3 separate regions of the Homo sapiens genome follow, and regions 2 and 3 are each linked to region 1. Evidence: fine-mapped expression QTL. A gene starts in region 1. Each other region holds a variant in brackets. All regions are shown on one strand. Distances are from middle to middle.

Evidence for each region. PIP is the estimated chance that this variant, and not a neighbour inherited with it, causes the effect. A credible set is the group of variants that fine-mapping cannot tell apart.
Region 2: its variant is the best candidate, but not a certain one, in a credible set for the expression of SLC7A9 in substantia nigra (GTEx, PIP 0.82).
Region 3: its variant is the best candidate, but not a certain one, in a credible set for the expression of SLC7A9 in breast (GTEx, PIP 0.63).

Annotation. Positions count from the first base shown.
Region 1 is chr19:32,866,142-32,872,719 of GRCh38, reverse strand. It overlaps SLC7A9 (solute carrier family 7 member 9), which reads left to right and starts at 2,953. Exons shown (of 13, transcript NM_014270.5): 1 at 2,953-3,034; 2 at 4,075-4,272. The coding sequence starts at 4,186. RefSeq lists enhancers at 1,603-2,125, 2,126-2,648, 4,090-4,665.
Region 2 is chr19:32,964,290-32,970,867 of GRCh38, reverse strand. It overlaps CEP89 (centrosomal protein 89), which reads left to right. Exons shown (of 19, transcript NM_032816.5): 2 at 4,402-4,508. Among named protein-coding and RNA genes, the nearest start is that of CEP89, 4.4 kb to the left of the region's middle. The variant G/T (reference allele first, on the strand shown) is at 3,537.
Region 3 is chr19:32,912,977-32,919,554 of GRCh38, reverse strand. CEP89 (centrosomal protein 89) reads left to right here. Exons shown (of 19, transcript NM_032816.5): 13 at 1,216-1,331; 14 at 4,038-4,218. Among named protein-coding and RNA genes, the nearest start is that of SLC7A9, 46 kb to the right of the region's middle. The variant T/C (reference allele first, on the strand shown) is at 3,350.

The DNA of each region.
Region 1 (6,578 bases):
AGGAAATCTACATTAGTACAAGTATCTGTACCAGGAAGAGACAACTTTTATTACCTGAGAGACTTATATCTGCATAACAAGACGACCTTTATTCGCCATGCATTTCCTCCCCTCACCATCCCATTACTAGTCCCTACCTGCCCCAGAAGCCCCAAGCCCCTAATCCTTATATAGCTCAGGATGCTATATAGGGTTTAGTCATCTGGCCCTTCTTCAAGTCTCTTGTTTTGTGGGACTCAGTTGCATATACACATAATTAAAACAGTTTTCCTCCCATTAGTCTCAATTCGAAGCCCAACCAAAGAACCCAAAAGGGTGGAGAGAAGCATTTTACCCTCCCCAACTGAAATCAAATGTGCACCAAATATAAGATAAAATGTAGATGGTGTGAAGATCTTCACACTGCAAGCATTTTTGCAATCGGAAGGGAAAAAGCACGGGTTGAAAATGAAGGTCAAGAGTCTTTAGCAGAAACTTAAGAAATAGAGTGGTTGGGCGGGTGTGGTGGCTCACACCTGTAATCCCAGCACTTTGGGAGGCTGAAGCGGGTGGATTACTTGAGGTCAGGAGTTCAAGATCAGCCTGGCCAACATGATGAAACCCTGTCTCTACTAAAAATACAAAAATTAGCCGGGTATATTGTCACACATGTAGTACCAGCTACTCGGGAGGCTGAGGGAGGAGAATCGCTTGAACCTGGGAGGCGGAGGTTGCAGTGAGCTGAGATCATGACACTGCACTCCAGCCTGGGTGACACAGCAAGTCTCAAAAATAAATAAATAAAATGGTAAAAATGACAGTAGGATTTGCGCTTTGGGAGGCCGAGGCAGGTGGATCACTTGAGGTCAGGAGTTCAAGACCAACCTGGCCAACATGGTGAAACCCCATCTCTACTAAAAATACAAAAATTAGCCAGGCATGGTGGTGGATGCCTGTAATCCCAGCTACTCAGGAGGCTGAGACAGGAGAATCACTTGAACCCAGGAGGCAGAGGTTGCAGTGAGCTGAGATCGTGCCACTGCACTCCAGCCTGGGCGACAGAGTGAGGCTCCATCTAAAAAAAAAAAAATTGACAGCAGGGAGGTGAAACTTCAGTCACATGGCAGAAGCACTGGATACACAATGAACCAATGGTCTTCAAGAACTGAGGAAAATTTTGCTTTTTAAATGAAATCCGTATTATTTTCCATGAGGAAGAGCTTATGAGAATTACTTGAATACTTTCTGTGTATTCAAGGGAGGGAGAGGGTGGGACTGCGGTGAAAAACACAACTTTAAGAAACAGGCTTAAGAAATGCTCACCGTGGACCCAAAATGAACTGAAGTGGAGGTTTCTGACTTAACAAAGGACCCTCACATCCCGATGTTCCAGACTCGGCACTTGGAAGAGGCCCAGGAAGACCAGAGGGCTGGTCCCGGACATTCATGGAACATGCAAGTTCAGTGTGTTCCGTGAGGAGGCGCCTGTTGCTCGCCCTGCGTCGCAGGTTCAGACCCTGATCCTGGCAGTGCTGCCTGAGCCCATGTGGGTAGTGGGTGAGGTTGCAGGGCTGTCTGGCCCCAGCGGGGGACCACTGCCCCACCCTGATGTCCTCACGTGGTCTCCTGTCAGCCTGCCAGGAGCACTTTTGACCCAGGGGGTATTCTGTGGTGTTTTGCAAACATGGATGTGCCAGGTACTATGATGAGTGCTGCAACATTAGGAGGAGTGACCCCAGCAAGCCGGTGGGCAGGTTCTGTCTAGGGTGGCAGGACCTGCCACTAGCCTCTCTGCTCAGGGCTCTGGGCATGGCAGGCAGGTAAACAGGTGGGCCCTCCCAAGATGGGAGGTGACGAACTTCTAAATCAGGACCGTGCCTCTGGGACAACAAGGGTCCCTGTGCTCTGCAGACGGCTTTCAGAGAAACCTGTGCCTCTCTCAGGTCTGCTTGCCCCAAACTGCTCCCAAACTGACCCCCAGAGACTGGCCCAGCTCCTTCCATCCCTGACCTTTGCTTCCATCTGATATCTGGGATGCAGTTAAGTTTGGCCCAAGGCAAAGCTACCAGAGTTTTGGCTGAAGGTAACAGCTACGATGCTTCAGATGCAGTGCTTATGCTGTGCCAGGCTGTCTCATAAGGTCTCATAAGGTGCTTCCTTCCCTATCTGAAAGGGCTTCGTGCTGACCCCTGAGGCTGCCGCCTGAGCCTAGGTCCAATCGCAGTGCGGGAGAACCTCTGCTCCCTCCCAGAGAGATCCAGACCCTGGCAGCCCTGGATGCGGACCGGAGCTTCCTGGCCTTGTGTTGCCTGTCCCCCTCCGTTTCCCCGAAGGGGAAGGTTTTGTGTCCCTTGTGATGAGCCAGGACATGGCTACGTGAACAGCACCACAGCCAAACCTGATGGGCATTTGGCCGCAGCTGCAGGGAGGACACGAGGCCCTGCATTGCCTCAGGCCTGCTTGTGATTCCAAGTGGTGAAGCCCCATCACTGGTAAAGAGGAGTGGGACGGGCTCAGCCGCTCTCACCTGCTCAGCCAGAGGCAGGCCCTTGGCTTGGGGGAAATTCCTGGGCGGGGAGGAAACTGACCAACAGCTGAGTTACGCACACACAGCGGTTCCTGTTTGAGCTGCCTGACTTGGGTTTTAAATATAGCCTATTAAGGCAATTAGCGAATTGGTTCCAAAGTTTATCTCCTCTGATTCCCAAAGATAAAAGAAGGCATAATTTATTTTATCTTTAGGTAAAAAGTGTAGACGATTTGGGACCATCTGGTTTTAAAAAAATAATCTGACCTAGACACAAATGAACAAAACAAAAACGGTTTTGGAGAGAAATTGGTGTTCCTGACCCTCCCCTTTTTTGTGTGGCGTATCTAAGCTTCATTGCAAAAAAAAAAAAAAAGGTGTTTAATAATTACCCTTATTGACCTCTGTACCTTCTGGACTTCCTTTGCTCCTGGGCACAAGACATGGCCATTTCTAGGGTTGGACCGTGCAGGCACGGGCGGTCAGCTGGGCCGCAGCTCCTCCGGCTCTGCAGGGTCACGGAGGAAGGTAAGTAAGGTCAGTAGGTGATAGAAAGGCTCATGGCTCTCCTGGCCGGGGCCTGGACAGATAATTTATTTAGAGAGAGGGTACAGGAGTGCATGGTTTTCTCCTAGTTCAGTCTGGAACTGGGTTTCCTCGGCAATGTTTTCTTTCCTTTCATCACTCAATGAAAAAGTACCTGGCCAGGCGTGGTGGCTCACCCCTGAAATCCCAGCCCTTTGGGAGGCCGAGGTGGAAGGACTGCTTGAGGCCAGCCGGGGCAAATAGCAACACTCCCGTCTTTATAAAAAATATTGTAAAAATTTAAAAAGTACAAAGAAAAAGTACCTGTATTGTGGATCTGTGATGTATGGGAGTGCCTTTAATCTTGGGAAGGAATTATAAGACAGACACTCCTTACCTGGACTTGATTCTGATAAATACATTCCACAATATTTTCATTTTTTAATTTTTTATATATATATTTTTTGAAACAGAATCTCGCTCTGTGGCCCAGGCTGGAGTGCAGTGGCATGATCTTGGCTCACTGCAGCCTCTGCCTCCAGGGTTCAAGTGCTTCTCTTGCCTCAGCCTCCCGAGTAGCTGGGATTAACAGGCACCCACCACCACACCCAGCTAATTTTTTTTTTTTTTTTTTTGCATTTTTAGTAGAGACGGGGTTCGCCATGTTAGCCAGGCTGGTCTCAAACTCCTGGGCTCAAGTGATCCACCCACCTCGGCCTCCGAAAGTGCTGGGATTACAGACCTGAGCCACTGTGCCCAGCCCGGGATGTTGTTAAATATTTCTTTTTACTTTTGAAAAAAAATGAAGTTGACCATAGAGGTAGAATGACTTTCAAGGCACAGGCACGTGGGCCAGGAGGCTCCCGGGGCCTGTCTGGGAGAGAGCTAAGCAAGCAGCTGAGCTTTGGAGAGCAGCGGGGAGCTGTGTTCCCCTGCCTGGACAATGTTAATGACTGACTTTGACTCTGGGGCCCAGCGCATGAGCCCTGAGGGACTGGCAGCGGCCCCCACCTGCAGCAATAACCAACACTGTGCTTTTGCAGCCAGCTCCCCTAGTCCAGGCCGAGCTTGCACTTGCGTCTTGTCTGCTGCTGCTGAACCAAGATTTAGCTGTGCGCCCTCCTTGCAGTCTCCTGGAACCAGCAGGAGGAAACATGGGGGATACTGGCCTGAGAAAGCGGAGAGAGGATGAGAAGTCGATCCAGAGCCAAGAGCCTAAGACCACCAGTCTCCAAAAGGAGGTAAGGCGGTCTCTGGTGGGGCAGGCCCTTTGCAGGTTAGGCAAGGGCGTCTGAACGAGGGGCGCAGGCAGTGAAATCCGGGCCGATCCCTAGTGACACGGCAGAAGATGTACTCTTTGATTTGTGAAGTACATCTTTAAAGGGATAATCTCTGGACTTACTTCTCTTTCCCTCTCGCCAGGGAATTCTGCATCTTCTTTTTTTTTTTTTTTTTTTTGAGATGGAGTGTTGCTCTGTCACCCAGGCTAGAGTGCAGTGCTGCCATCTCGGCTCAATGCAACCTTCACCTCCCCGGTTCAAGGGATTCTTCTGACTCAGCCTCCCGAGTAGCTGGGATTACAAGCACCCGCCACCATACCCGGCTAATTTTTGTATTTTTAGTAGAGACAGGGTTTCACCATGTTGGCCAGGCTGGTCTCAGACTCTTGGCCTCAGGTGATCCTCCCAAAGTGCTGGGATTACAGGCGTGTGCCACTGCACTCGGCTGCATATTCTTTTTTTTTTTTTTTTTTTTTTTTGAGACAGAGTCTTGCTCTGTCACCCAGGCTGGAGTGCAGTGGTATGATCTCAGCTCACTGCAACCTCCGCTTCCTGGGTTCAAGCAGCTCCTGAGTAGCTGGGACTACAGGCATGTGCCACTACGCCTGGCTAATTTTTGTATTTTCAGTAGAGACGAGGTTTCACCATATTGGCCAGGCTGGTCTCCAATTCCTGGCCTCAAGTGATCCGCCCACCTCGGCCTCCCAAAGTGTTGGGATTACAGGCATGAGCCAACTTGCCCGGCCCGCATATTATTTTAAGTTCATAAATAGGTGCTTTTGTGTGTTGAGCAAGTGTCTAGACGGGCCAGTATTTTTGTTCAAACTAATGGCCTTTCCAGGAATGGTCAGAAAGGGCGTTCTTTTTAAAAATTTTTAAAAAAATTTTTTTAGAGTCAGGGTCTTACTCTGTCACCCAGGCTGGAGTGCAGTGGTGCAATCATAGCTCACTGCAGCGTCAACCTCCTGGACTCAAGCAATCCTCCTGCCTCAGCCTCCTGAGTAGCTGGGACTACAGGAGCACACCACCATGCTCTGCCAAATTTTTAACTTTTCAAAAAAATTCTTTCTGTAGAGTCAGTATCTTGCTGTGTTGCCCAGGCTGGTCTGGAACTCCCGGGCTCAAGCGATCCTCCCACCTCAGGCTCCCAAAGTGCTGGGATTATAGGCGTGAGTCGCTGTGCCCAGCCAGAGAGGGCGTTCTGATGGTTGAGTCCCCTCTAAATGCCTGTCCTCCTTATATCTGAATGGCTGTAGTGATGGGAAGTACTGCCCCCAGCATAGCCTGTTCTGTCTTAGAGGCATCTACCAGGGACAGCTGCTCTGAGTTGGGCTGCAGTGAGCAGCTGGGGCTGGCCCTGGGCCTGCAGGGAAAGGGAGCTTGGGGCTGGGGGGAAGGCAGAAAGGAGCTCAACACAGCACACTGCGCCAGTCCCAGGCAGTTGGGAGCAGCAGGTGCTGAGCATGGAGGCGCAGGGAGGGCTTCAGGCTCCTAGGATGAGGAAAGGCAGCTCCAGGTGAGCTCAGGATGGCTTCCGCTTCCAGGGCAGAGGTGTGGGCAGGGCCTCCGAGAGCTCCCATGCCTGGCAGCAGAGGGGATGGAGGAGGGACGGCACCAAGGCTTTAGGGCTTGACCGGAGGGCTGGCAATGGCCTGAATGGCTTGGCCTGGGACCCCCAGGAGGTAGACGATGGGCTGCAGCACTTTCCCTCTCTGCCAGTCTCAGGCCTGATCTCAGGAAGGGCCTCTTAGAACCCTGGTGGGCCCCAGTGGCCACAGAGCACAGCTGAGAAATCCCCAAGATGTGTCTTCTGAGCTGGGGACAGGTGTGGCGGCACACGCCTGTAACCTTAGCACTTTGGGAGGCTGAGGTGGGAGGATCCCTTGAGCCCAGGAGATCGAGGCTGCAGTGAGTCATGATCGCGCCATTGCACTCCAAGCCTGGGTGACAGAGCGAGACCCTGACTCTAAAAACCAAAAATCTGAGCTGGGTCTACTCCTCAGTCAGGCAGCTTCAGGGCGAATGCAGACCTCACCCACATCAGAACCCAGGCAGTCCCTCAGCAGGAGGGAGGATTCTGGAGCCAAACTGCCAGTCCTGGGCAGGGCTGAGATGAGGAGGAGAGCTGAGCCCATCCCCGCCCTGTCCTGGAAGTGCGCCCTGGCCCTGAAAGCAGACGCTGCTCCCCAGGGATCCCACTGGTGTGTGCAGAGTCCTCAGGGTGGCAGCCTGCAGCTGGGAGCCCCTCATCCCCTGCGATCTGACTC
Region 2 (6,578 bases), 98 kb before region 1:
TATTTATTTTATTTTTTGCCTCACACTCTGCCAAGTCTCAATGCCTGGCTAATTTTAAAAATTATTTTGTAGAGGCCACGTGAGGTGGCTCTCACCTGTAATCCAGCACTTTGGGAGGCTGAGGCAGGCGGATCATTTGAGGTCAGGAGTTCAAGATTAGCCTGGCCAACATGGTGAAAACCCATCTCTACTAAAAATACAAAAATTAGCGGGCGTGGTGGTGGGCACCTGTAATCCCAGCTACACGGGAGGTTGAGGTGGGATAATCGCTTAAACCCGAGAGGCAGAGGTTGCAGTGAGCCAAGATTGTGCCACTGCACTCCAGCCTGGGCGACAAAGCTAGACTCTGCCTCAAAAAAACATAATTTTTTTTTTTTGGTAGAGATGGGGTCTGGGTATGCTGCCCAGGCTGGTCTTAAACCTTGGCTCAAGCAATCCTCTCACCTTGGCCTCCAGAGTGTTGGGATTACAGGTGTGAGCCACTGCATCTGGCTTGAGTTTTTATTTAAAGCCCCAAACATTAATGAGTCCCTGCTGTGTGCTGATACCCACAACTGACAGCTTATGGCCACACGGTCTGTAGGATAGACAAGCCCATAAATAATTCTGTACACAATGGTAAAACAAGAACTGCTGTTGATGTGTGTACCAGAAGGGCAGTGACGTCAGCCTGGAGAGTTGGCCTGGGCCTGGCAGGGAGTAAGGAAAGAATTCTGGGTGCAGAAGACAGCAAATACCAAGGCCTAAAAAAGAATGAATTATTTGCTGTTTGGGAAATGGAAGCCCACGCTGAGTGCTGAAGCACAGGGACTCTGCGCAGGAAGAGGAGGGGAAGCAAGAAATGAATTTGGGTCCTTGTGATGGCAGTGGCTGCTGCCATCACGCTGTGTGGCTAGGGCTGCACACTTCATGGAGCCGGTGGAAGCCCCGTCCCTCATGAGTTGGGACTGGAGCCGCAAACCGCTGCTGCAGACCCAGGCCTTCTGCTCTATGGAGCAGGCAGGAGCCCCACCCTCTTGGGCAGGGCTACAGCCACCCAAACTGCAGCTGTGGATCCGAGCCTCTCTGCTCCTGGGGGAGCCGGGAACAGGCAGAATTTGCCCTTCCAGATGCAGCTGCAGCCGCGCAGGCAGGAGCCAGGGACAAGTGGGAGCCCTGCCTCTTCCAAGTTGGCGGGGTGGGAGCTCCCAGGTGCAGCTGTGGCTGCCCCCCCAGGCACAGGACGAGGGCATCTCTGTAGCCTGCACCATCGGCCATCCCAGGAAGGACAGCCCCCTTCACCCTCCATCCCTGCAGGCTCAGGGGTGTCTGCTTCCACTGCCTGGCCTCTCTCCACTCCAGCAACTGCTCTGATCTTGGAGGGGAGTCGGAGCCAAGACCTGCAGCCATGAATGGCAGCAGGAGGAAGGGGGTGGGGTCCCCAGTAAGGCCCCACCCTCAGGCCAGGGAGGGCCTGAATTCTGGGGGCTGGGCTGCCAGTCCCTCTGACCAGAGTGGAAACTCGTGGAGCCTTTTCTGGGCCTGCCAATGGCCCAATCAGCACACACTTCTTCCCCGCTGAGGTCCATAAAAACCCTGGGCTCAGCCAGAGCAGCGCAGAGAATAGCCAGAGGATGAAGATGGTAGAGACGAGGGGACAGGATGACCAGCTGCAGAGAGCAGTACCCTCTCTGCTGATAGCTGGAGACGGTGGGGTGACCAGCTACAGAGAGGAGTACCTTCTCCGCTGAAAGCTACAGAGACCACCTGCCAGCAGAGAGGAGCTACACTCTGCTGCGAGCTTCAGAGACCTGCAGAGACATTGGAATGACTTGCCTGCGGAGAGGAGCCACTCTCTCCAGGGCCTCCTCTCTGTTGAGAGCTGAATGGTTGAGCTCATGGGACAATCTGTCTCCAGAGAGGAGCTACCCACTCCTCTGAGCTCTTCTAACACTAAATAAAACTCCTCTTCACCCTTCACTTGTCTGTGTACCTCATTCTTCCTGGATGCAGGACAAGAACTCAGGCAAAGGCACTGTGGCCACAGAGGTTCCGGCCAGAAAAATCGACACCCCAAAAATCCCATAACACTTGGTAGGAACCAACCTATATCAGCCTGATAAGCCATGCTGGACATTTGCCTGCCGTTGAGAGAGTGGTGCTGCCCATGAGGGTTTTTATGCCCAGTAGAGACAGGATTGATGAGGGGACCATAGTTAGGAATGATTGTGATGGTATGAGGGGGGATTCACTCTTTAAAAAAAAAAAATCTTATGCAGCCTTTTTGGAGGACCTGCTGGACGCCAGCCCTTGGGATTCAAAGGTTAAGAAAACCTTTTCTGGCCAGGTGCAGTGGTTCACACATGTAATCCCAGTATTTTGGGAGGCCAAGGCAGGCGGATTGCCTGAGGTCAGGAGTTTGAGACCACCCTGGCCAACATGGTAAAACCCCATCTCTACCAAAATACAAAAATTAGCTAGGCATGTTGGCACATGACTGTGGTCCTAGCTACTTGGGAGGCTGAGGCATGAGAATAGCTTGAACCCAGGAGGTGGAGGTTGCAGTGAGCCAAGATCGTGCCACCGCACTCCAGCCTGGGTGACAGACAAGACTGTCTCCAAAACAAGCAAACAAACAAAAACCATTTCTTGTCGTGTAGCAGGTGGTGGAGGGGGGCAGGGTGGAAACATGGAAACTGTGGAATCACTTGACAAATACAGGGTGGCAGGTGCCACACAGAGGTAAACAGAGTGGGGGTATTGGGTAGAGACTGCTTGGAGCTTCTGCTCCTGTGGGTGGCTGTGCAAGTCGGTGGTGGGGGCTGTAGGAGATGACTGGAAGGTGTGCCCATCCCTCACTCCTGAAAGATGCCCCCACTCTGTGCCACCCTTCCCAGCCTTGTGTCTCGTGCTGACCACTACCTAACATTCCTGGGGCCACTGTCAGTGGGTGCTCCTCACTAGGCCTTGGGATTTCCTCCATCTGCTCTGGAAGCCCTTCCCATGGGAATTGTCCCCACCATGCCCCCAAGCCCCACCCTCGAAGATGCCTCTAGTCTAGCAAAACGGAGAATCGTGCTTATGATTTCCGAGCACTGCAACCAATGTCTTGCTCCATTCCTTTGTTCATGCCGTTCCCTCTTCCTAGAATGCTGTTCCGTCACATTTCCAAATGTGGGACCAGTGGGCATCTCTGAAAGCCCAGTCTAAACGCCTGTGTGATTTTCTCGAAGGAAAGCATTTGAAATTCCCAGGCTGGCCCCAGACCTGGAGGAATCTTCCCTCCCTGCCCACCCCAGCACTTTGTGCTAATTACTGGCTTCAAATAGAAAACAATAGTGTTTTTATCCCACATCTCATTGATGCTCTTTTTTTTTTTTTTCATTTTTAGTGAGAGCCTTTCTCCCGGCTCATTCCATAATTCTATGTTCTGTAATAATTATTTGGGTGTTTTTCCTCCCTTCTCACCACTTTGGGGATGAAGACAAGGTTTCTTCATTGCTGTCATGGTGTTTTGCCTCTAGTAGGTGTGAATGAATGGCTCGTGCCAAGAAAAT[G/T]ATTGGACTAGACCCAGAAACGTCTCAGAGACTCCCAGTTACAGTTACCTAAAGCGGAGCTCTCTGACTTTCATTGTGTATAGGAGCTAGTTTTCATTACTCTCGTCTTGGAGATAAGCCACCTAAAAGCTTATATTAAGCCCCTATGAGGTGTGAGGCAATGTGCTCAATGCTAGAGTTCCAGGATTGATAAAGATAAGAGAGTGGGCCAGGTGCAGCACTCGCACCTATAATCCCAACACTTTGGGAAGCTGAGGTGGGAGGATCACTTGAAGCTAGAAGTTCGAGACCAGTCTGGGCAATGTAGTGAGATCCTGTCTCTACAAAAAAATACAAAAATTACCTAGGCATGGTGGTGAACATCTGTAGTCCCGTCTACTCGTGTGGCTGAAGCGGGAGTTTGAGGCTGCGGTGAGCTATGATCGTACCACTGCACTCCACTCTGGGCAACAGAGCAAGACCCCATCTCAAAAACAAAACAAAGCGAAAAACAATAAGGATATCACTTGCTTCTCAGGAAGTCGCCCTGCTCTGCAGGGGGAGCCACATGAGACATCACTGGGGGGAGTGCTGTGGGACACATGGAAGAGCTAGAGGGTGACTCTTGGGGACAGCCAGGGAAGCTCTGAGGAGGGAAGGACAAGAGGGCCACACAATGAGCAGCTATCATGATGCTCCTTGGCTGTGTGCACTTGTCTGGCCTGATGGGGACTGGGGATGGCAGGGGAGGAGTGGGCTTCTGATGGGTTTGGATCCATGGGTGGCCAGTGCAGGTGTCCCCTTGCAGGCCCAGGGAGAGTGGTGACAAGACTCAGGTGATCCAGTGACCCAACCCAGTGACTTCTGTTGGATTTCATTTGTGCAGAAACACATCATCCATGGCCTTTTACCTGCAGCCAGCGTTGCTCCGAAGGCAGCTGTGCCACGCACACCTCCTCCCCGCAGCCCCAACCCATCTCCAGAGAGACCAAGGTGAGTATCAGATGAGCAGGCACTGAGGTCACCCCTGTGCTCAGCCTCCAAGTACTGGATCCTGGAACTGCTCAAACTGCCCAGAAAAGTATAAGTAGGGTGGTTAGAATCATGTCCTTCAAAATGTTTACCACGATTCCATAATGATGCAATTAATATGGTGTCTCTGAGGATAATGGACTGACTTGAGGTCTCTCCTTTTCAGGTGCATGAACTTCTCACATTTCATGATTGAATGCAATGAGTATTTAAAAAAAAATGTAAAGCATTAAAGCCCAAGTATTCAGGTTAACAGGGAATTTTGAATTATACACATAATTTTCTTTCTTTTTTTTTTCCTTCGAAACGGAGTCTTGTTCTGTTGCCCAGGCTGGAGTGCAGTGGCGCAATCTTGGCTCACTGCAGCCTCCACCTCCCAGGTTCAAGCAATTCTCCTGCCTCAGCCTCCGGAGTAGCTGGGATTACAGGCACATGCCACCACGCCTAGCTAATTTTTGTATTTTTAGTAGAGATGGGGCTTCACCATGTTGGCCAGACTGGTCTCAAACTCCTGACCTCTTTCTTAATCCGCCTGCCTTGGCCTCTGAAAGTGCTGGGATTACAGGCATCAACCTCCGCACCCAGCCCATTTTCTTTTTTTTTTTTAATTATTAATTTTTTTTTCAAGGCAAGATCTTGCTCTGTTGCCCAGGCTGGAGTGCAGTGGTGCAATCATGGCTCACTGCAGCCTCCACCTCCCAGGCTCAATCAGTTCTCCCATCTCAGCCCGCCGGGTAGCTGGGACTACAGGCATGTACCACCATGCCCAACTAATTTTTCTATTTTTTATAGAGATAGGGTTTTGCCATGTTTCCCAGGCTGAAATCCTGGGCTCAAGCAATCCACCTGCCTCTGCCTCCCAAAGTGCCTGGGATTACAGACGTGAGCCACTGTGCCTGGCCAAAACAAAAAGTTTTTTCGAGATATGGTCTCATTCTGTTGCCCAGGCTGGAGTGCATTGGTGCGAACGTGACTCACTGCAGCCTCAACCCCCTAGCATCAAGCGATCCTCCTGTCTCAGCGTCCTGAGTAGCTGGGACTACAGGTACACACCACCATGCCTGGCTAATTTTTTAAATTTTCTGCAGAGATGGAGGTCTCACTATGTTGCCCAAGTTGGTCTTGAACTCCTAGGGTAAACTGATCCTGGGAGGCTGAGGCAGGAGAATTGCTTGTGCCCAGGAGTTTAAGATCAGCCTGGGCAACATAGCAAATCCTTATCTATAGCAAAAATCAAAAGAAAATAAATTATCTGAGCATGATGGTGCATGTCTGCAATCCCAGATACTCGGGAGGCTAAGGCTGGAAGATCACTTGAGCCCAAGAGGAAAAGGCTGCGGTGAGCTATGATCATGTCACTGCACTGCAGCCTGAGCAACAGTGAGGCTGTTGTGAGTGAGGCCCTGCCTCTAAAAAAGTTTATTTTAAAAAGATAATTAATAGGGTAGCTCCTGAAAAAGAAAAAAAGATAATAAATATATCTATCATTCTGACAAGGGTCCTCATGCTCCTTTGTAATTCCTTCCCCCTGCCCCTCTCTGCCACCTTTCATGCTCCTGTTCATCCCCAGGCAACCTCTCATCTCCTTTCTCACACTATGGATTAGCTTGTATTTTCTAGAATTTTATATAAGTGGAGTTACATAAAATACACTGCCTTCCTTCACTCAGCATGATTATTCTGATTAACGCGTGTTCCGAAAGTCAATAATTCATCCTTTTCCTTACTGAGTAGTATTTCATTATATGAATATGCCACAGTTTGTTTATCCATTCTCCTGTTGATGGATATTTAGTTTGTTTCTAATTTTTGGTTACTAGAAAAAGGCTGCTGTAAACATTTACACACTGGCTGAGTGTGGTGGCTCATGCCTATAATCCCAGCAATTTGGGAGGCTAAGGCAGGCAGATCACCTGAGCTTAGTAGTTTGAGACCAGCCTGGTCAACACGGTGAAAACCTATCTCCACTAAAAATACAAAAATTAGCTGGGTGTGGTGGTGCACTCCTGTAGTCCCAGCTACTGGGGAGGC
Region 3 (6,578 bases), 47 kb before region 1:
GGTGCTGGTAGCAGGCAAGAGGCACCCCCACAGTGCCCAGGAGCCAGTGCACACCACTGTTGGGGCCACACCATTGTTACAGCCTGACTCCTTTCATCTTGTCTCTCTCCTTCCTCCTCCTCACCTGTAGGGTTTCAAGTGGAAAATCGAGATTATTTACTGCTTTAGTAAATAAACTTAACGCCCAGTGTACTTTGGGTGGTCAGCATTTCACTAGATGATTTCTAAGGTCCCTTCAGCTCATTCTAATCAGAATTTGCGATCTTGAGGGCTGAGCTGGGCTGGGTTTTACATTGCACTGGAAGGAGAGGATTTGTTTGTGCTGAGAGGAAAGCTGGGGCAGATTCATACAGTTTTAAGAAACCATTTCGGCTGGACGCGGTGGCTCATGCCTATAATCCCAGCACTTTGGGAGGCCGAGGCGGGCAGATCACGGGGTCAGGAGATCGAGACCATCCTGGCTAACATGGTGAAACCCTGTTTCTACTAAAAATACAAAAAAATTAGCCAGGCGGCGTGGTGGGCATCTGTAGTCCCAGCTACTTGGGAGGCTGAGGCAGGAGAATGATGTGAACCCGGGAGGCAGAGCTTGCAGTGAGCCGAGATTGCGCCACTGCACTCCAGCCTGGGCAACAGAGCAAGTCTCTGTCTCAAAAAAAAAAAAAAAAAAGAAAAAGAAAAAGAAAAAAGAAAAAAGAAACCATTTCAAAGCCTGCTAACAGAGTCAGTTTTTTTTGTTTTTTTGTTTTGTTTTGTTTTGCAAATATGCTACTGATTACAAAGGAGTATTTTAAAATTGAAATGGGAACTTTCTAAATTCTTTAAACATGTTCCATATGGGCTTCAGAATAATATAGTGGGCAGCAGGACTAGAGGTTTATACAGATGAAACCTCATCAGCCATTTAGTGACTGTTCAAGCTGGGTATTGTGCACATAGGAGTCTCCTACTCTATCCTCTTTACTTCTGTACATGTTTGAAATTTTACATCTGAAAGCGTTTTCTGAAGCAGTCCGTAATTCAGACTTCACGGCTGTCCTTCCTCGCCTGACTGCAAATGGCAGGATTTGCTGCTGTGTTAATATGTTTAACATGAAGACATGACTTGATATTCATTACCTGTAATGCAGCCATTGCTTCCTTTTAGATTCCAGAGTGTTTCTGTAACCATTCAGCACCTGAATCACAGTATTTCATCTTGTAAATCAATTGCAGGCGTCAGCTTCAGACTCAAGCAAAACTGGTTTTAGAGGAAAACAAGTTGTTGCTGGAGCAGTTGGAGATTCAGCAAAGGAAAGCCAAGGACAGCCACCAGGAGCGCCTCCAAGAAGGTGAGGTCCTTCCAGTGAGGACTGGTCATGCATTGATGTCACTATTGTCATTTTACCCTTCTATCTCTCTCCTGCCGGGGGCCCCAGTTGAAAATGAGAGAAGTCATGTTTTGCATTTTTGACTGGAATGTGGCTGTTTATAACCTTTCCACGTCACTACCCTCAATGCATAGATTGCTTTTTCAGACTCCACAGTGTCTCTCATCATCCCATGGGTTTGTAAATCACTCGTAGGTAATAGTGCTAGACTCAGCAGAACTGGTTTTGGGGTAAAATAGTACCTTAGAAATGGGAATGATCACGTGAGGTAAACATCTGAAATAACACAGGGTCTCTTCCCAGATGTTTGTTGGATGCGTAAGCAGAACCATTCACTTTCTAAACAGTTCCCCTGTGTCCTTCCTTCCTTCAGAGCTGCGGGCCTGGGAGGCGACATCACTGCAGGTTAGATTTCCATCAAACACCTTCCGAGAGTGTCCCTCTTCCCATCTCTTCCCATGCATTCCCCCAACCCCTAGGAGCCTCATAGTCTGTGACAGTGCACAACTGTAAGGGGGCCAGGTTAAGAGTCATCGCTTCTGCTTTAAAACCGTAATTCATGAGTACAAAAGATAGTGGCATTTTTTCCCTTTGCTTTACTGATTTTTCTTTCTTAGTGAAGAATGGCATAGGCTGGGAAGCTGAAACACAAGCCATCTTGCATGAGGCTGTGGCACCCTGAGAAGCAGATGGAGGTTTTCCCTCTCCAGCTGCTTTTGGAATGGCAGCCCCTTCCACAGCATGGCAGGTCCATGAACAGCCCCTGCTGTTGCTGCAGTTGCAGGGCTAGCACTTCCTGTTTCTGAGAACCAGGTCGTGTTTAAAGATGAGAGCATCTCCCAGAGATGCACACAGGAGTTTCCTCCATGTGATTTCTCCTGAGACCTGCATGGCCCAGGAGTATTTGCCTTTACTCCGGCATTGTTAAGAGGAGAGGGGAAACAGAGTTGTGGAGCCTCTTATCTTTGTTTTCAGGGTTAGGGATGACATTAGTTTCCTATTTACTGAGCTTAATTTTCTTGAATATACCAGATCTGAACAGAAAGAGGATTTCTGGTCACATGGGGCAGGGAAAACCTTTTGACCTCTATGATTCAGTGAGTTGCCTGTGCTATTTTCCCATTGCCCAGAAACAGCGATTCACTTTGACCAATTAGATATTTTCTTTTTATTTTTTTTGAGACAGTCTCACTCTGTCGCCCAGACTGGAGTGCAGTGGCATGATCTAGGCTCACTGCAACTTCCGCCTGCCAGGTTCCAGCGATTCTCCTGCCTCAACCTCCCGGGTAGCTGGGATTACAGTCACGCGCCACCACTCCCGGCTAATTTTTGTATTTTCAGTAGGGGTGTTTCACCATGTTGGCCAGGCTGGTCTTGAACTCCTGACCTCAAGTGATCCACCCACCTTGGCCTCCCAAAATGCTAGGATTACAGGCGTGAGCCACTGTGCCCAGCCACCAATTAGATATTTTCATAGAGTAGAGAGATGTACAGTTTTATGCTATAATAAATACCTCTAAGTGCTAGTGTCGGCAGACGCTTGGGAATTATTACATGCAACCATGTAACACAGGATGAAAATATTTATGACTTACTTTAGATACAAGACATAAAATAAAAGTTTAATGACGAAAGGGAAGGAGAATAATAAATCCAGTTCTTAGTTTGGCCATGTTTGATGTCCTTAAAAATCTTGAAAATTTTGCAGCTTTAGGGACAACGTTATGACATATACTTACACACCTGGGTGTGATTTAAGGCTTTACTCTTAGGAAAGTCAGTTCCTTGAAGACTGGAATCATGTTTGGTAAAATATTATAGTGGATTTTATTTTAAAAAGTATATATTTAGTGAGTGCTTAATGTAGAGATAGTAATTTCTTTTGGCTTTTTTGGTTTTTGTTTTTGGAGACAAGGTCTCGCTGTGTCATCCAGGCTGGAGTGCAGTGGCCCAGTCACGGCTCACTATAGTCCTGAACT[T/C]CTGGGCTCAAGCAGTCCTCCTGCCTCAGCCTCCCGGATATCTGGGACCACAGACGCATGTCACCATGCCCTGCTAATTTTTAAATTTTTATGTAGAGATGGGGTCTCACTATGTTACCCAGGCTGGTCTCAAACTCCTGACCCCAAGCAATACTCCCCTCAGCCTCCCAAAGGGCTGGGGTTACAGGTATGAGTCACTGTGCCTAGTATGGACAGTAACTTCTAAGGACAAAGCCTTTGGTGTTAATTTATAACACTCCAAAATATCTTTTTTTTTTTTTTTTTTTCTGAGAGAGTCTCACTCTGTTGCCCAGGCTGAAGTGCAGTGGCGTGATCTCAGCTCACTGAGCCTTCTCGCCTCCTGGGTTCAAGTGATTCTCTGCCTCAGCCTCCTGAATAGCTGGGATTACAGGCGCCTGCCACCACGCCTGGCTAATTTTTGTATTTTTAGTAGAGACAGGGTTTCACCAACTTGGCCAGGCTGGTCTTGAACTCCTGACCTCGTGATCCACCCGCCTCAGCCTCCCAAAGTGCTGGGATTACAGGTGTGAGCCACCACGTCTGGCTCAAAAGATCTTTAAAAGGTCATTTTTATCAGCTGACTCTCATTAGTATTTCCTAATAGCCCATAATTGTGTTTTGTGAGGTCTTCTGTGCCAAGTTTTTATCTTCCTCTTTTGATTTTCAGTTTCTAAGCTGACTAAACAACTAATGCTCCTGGAGGCAAAAACCCACGGCCAGGAAAAGGAGCTGGCGGAGAACAGGGAACAGCTGGAGATTTTACGTGCCAAATGCCAAGAACTCAAAACACACTCGGATGGCAAAATCGCAGTGGAAGTTCATAAATCAATTGTGAATGAATTAAAAAGGTAAGGATTTAATGTTTTTTCTTTTTTTTTTTTTTTCTTTTTTCGAGACAGGGTCTTGCTATGTTGCTCAGGCTGGTCCCAAACTCCTGGGCTCAAGTGATCTGCCCATCCCAGCCTCTCAAAGTTTTGGGATTACAGGCATGAGCCACTGCGCCCAGCTGATTTAATGACTTTTTGAGTATAATGAGTCACTCTGCCTGTGGTTATAGGCAGAATGGAGAGAGGTTGCTCAGTTCTTTCTGGGTTTCTTCACCTATGGTCATGCACAGCATAGTGGCACAGGTGTCTGAAAGTGAGACTGGGACTTTTTTTTTTTGGGACGGACTCTCACTCTGTTGCGCAGGCTAGAATGCAGTGGTGCAGTCTCGGCACCTGTAACCTCCACCTCCTGGGTTCAAGTGATTCTCCTGCCTCAGCCTCCTGAGTATCTGGGATTACAGGGGCGGCTCACCACACCTGCCTAATTTTTGTATTTTTGGTAGAGACGGGGTTTCACCATGTTGACCAGGCTGGTCTCAAACTCCTGACCACAAGTGATCTGCCTGCCTTGACCTCCCAAAGTGCTGGAATTACAGGTGTAAGCCATCACGCCCAGCCTGACTTTTTTTTTCTTTTAATAACTTTGGTAATAAATGGTAAATTAAAGTAGAGCCTGGCTCTCCTTGAGGGCTGCAGTCTGCACTTTGGGTGTTTGTGATTTTTTTTTCATACTGTTTTGGCCTGTGTTAGTTTTAGAACCAAAGGCAATTTAAAATAGTGGAACTGGGCTGGGGGTAGTGCCTCATGCCTGTGATCCCAACACTTTGAGAGGCCAAGGCAGGCAGGTCACTTGAACCTGGAAATTTGAGACCAGCCTGGGCAACATGGCGAAACTGCATGTCTACCAAAAAAAATAATAATAATACAAAAACTAGCCAGGCGTGGTGGTATGCGCCTGTGGTCCCAGCTACATGGGAGATCGAGGCTGCAGTGAGCTGAGATCACGCCACTGTACTCCAGCCTGGGCAACAGAGTAAGACCCTGTCTCCTATCTCAAAAAATGATAAATAAATAAAATAGTAAAACTGGAAACCTAGATATCCAGTAATAAGGAATTAGTTAAATGAAAGGATATATCCTTGAAATGGAAGGAAATGCAGTCATTAAATATGATGTGACACAAGATCCTTTTTGACATAGGAAAATAGCCACCATATGTCTGTTTTTTTACAATGTTGCTCAGGCTGGTCTGGTCTCAAACTCCTGGACTCAAGCAGTTCTCCTACTACCTCAGCCCCACAAGTAGCTGGGACTACAGGGGCGTGCCTGCCTGGCCACAATATATTTTAAGTAATGAGTTTAGGTTTTAAAACAGCACATAGAAAATGATTACAATTTTATTTTTTAAGACGTGTGTGTGGCCGGGCACGGTGGCTCACACTTGTAATCCCAGCACTTTGGGAGGCCGAGGCGGGTGGTTCAGCTGAGGAGGGGAGTTTGAGACCAGCCTGGCCAACCTGGTGAAACCCTGTCTCTACTGAAAGTATAAAAATTAGCCAGGCATGGTGGCAGGCACCTGTAATCCCAGCTACTCGGGAGGCTGAGGCAGGAGAATTGCTTGAACCTGGGAGGCGGAGGTTGCAGTGAGCTGAAATTGCAATACTGCACTCCAGCCTGGGGGACAAGAGCGAGACTTTGTCTCAAAAAAAAAAAAAAAAGTGTGTGTGTATGTGTGTGTGTAACCAACCATAACAGTTTGCCTGGGACTGAGGGGTTTCCCAGGATGTGGGACTTATAGTGCTAAAATTGGGAATGTCCTAGGCAAAGTGAAATGAGTTGATCATTCTAGTATGTATGTATAAATGTATGTGTTTGTATAATTACATGTGTATGTGCGTGTATATATATACCTATGTATGGTATGTATGTAATTGGTAATTGGCCAATTGGTAATAGTCCGGGTAGGAGGATTGCTTGAGCCTAGGAGTTTGAGATCAGCCTGGGCAACATTGTGAAACAACAACAACAACAACAACAACAACAACAAAAAAATATATATATATATATATGGTGGCTATTTTCTCATGTCAAAAAGAATCTTGTATGTGTGTGTATGTAAGAGAGAGAGATATGGTATATATACATATGGTATATATGATAATTATGTATAGGAAACATACATAATTAATATGTGTAACTAATATATGTATAATTATATAATATTTTGTATAATTATATATGAATATTTTATATATTTATATTTTTTATTATTATATATTTATATATTCTATTTTTTAAATTTTTTTTAATTTTTTTTGAGACGGAGTCTCACTGTCGCCCAGGCTGGAGTGCAGTAGCGCTATCTCGGCTCACTGCAGGCT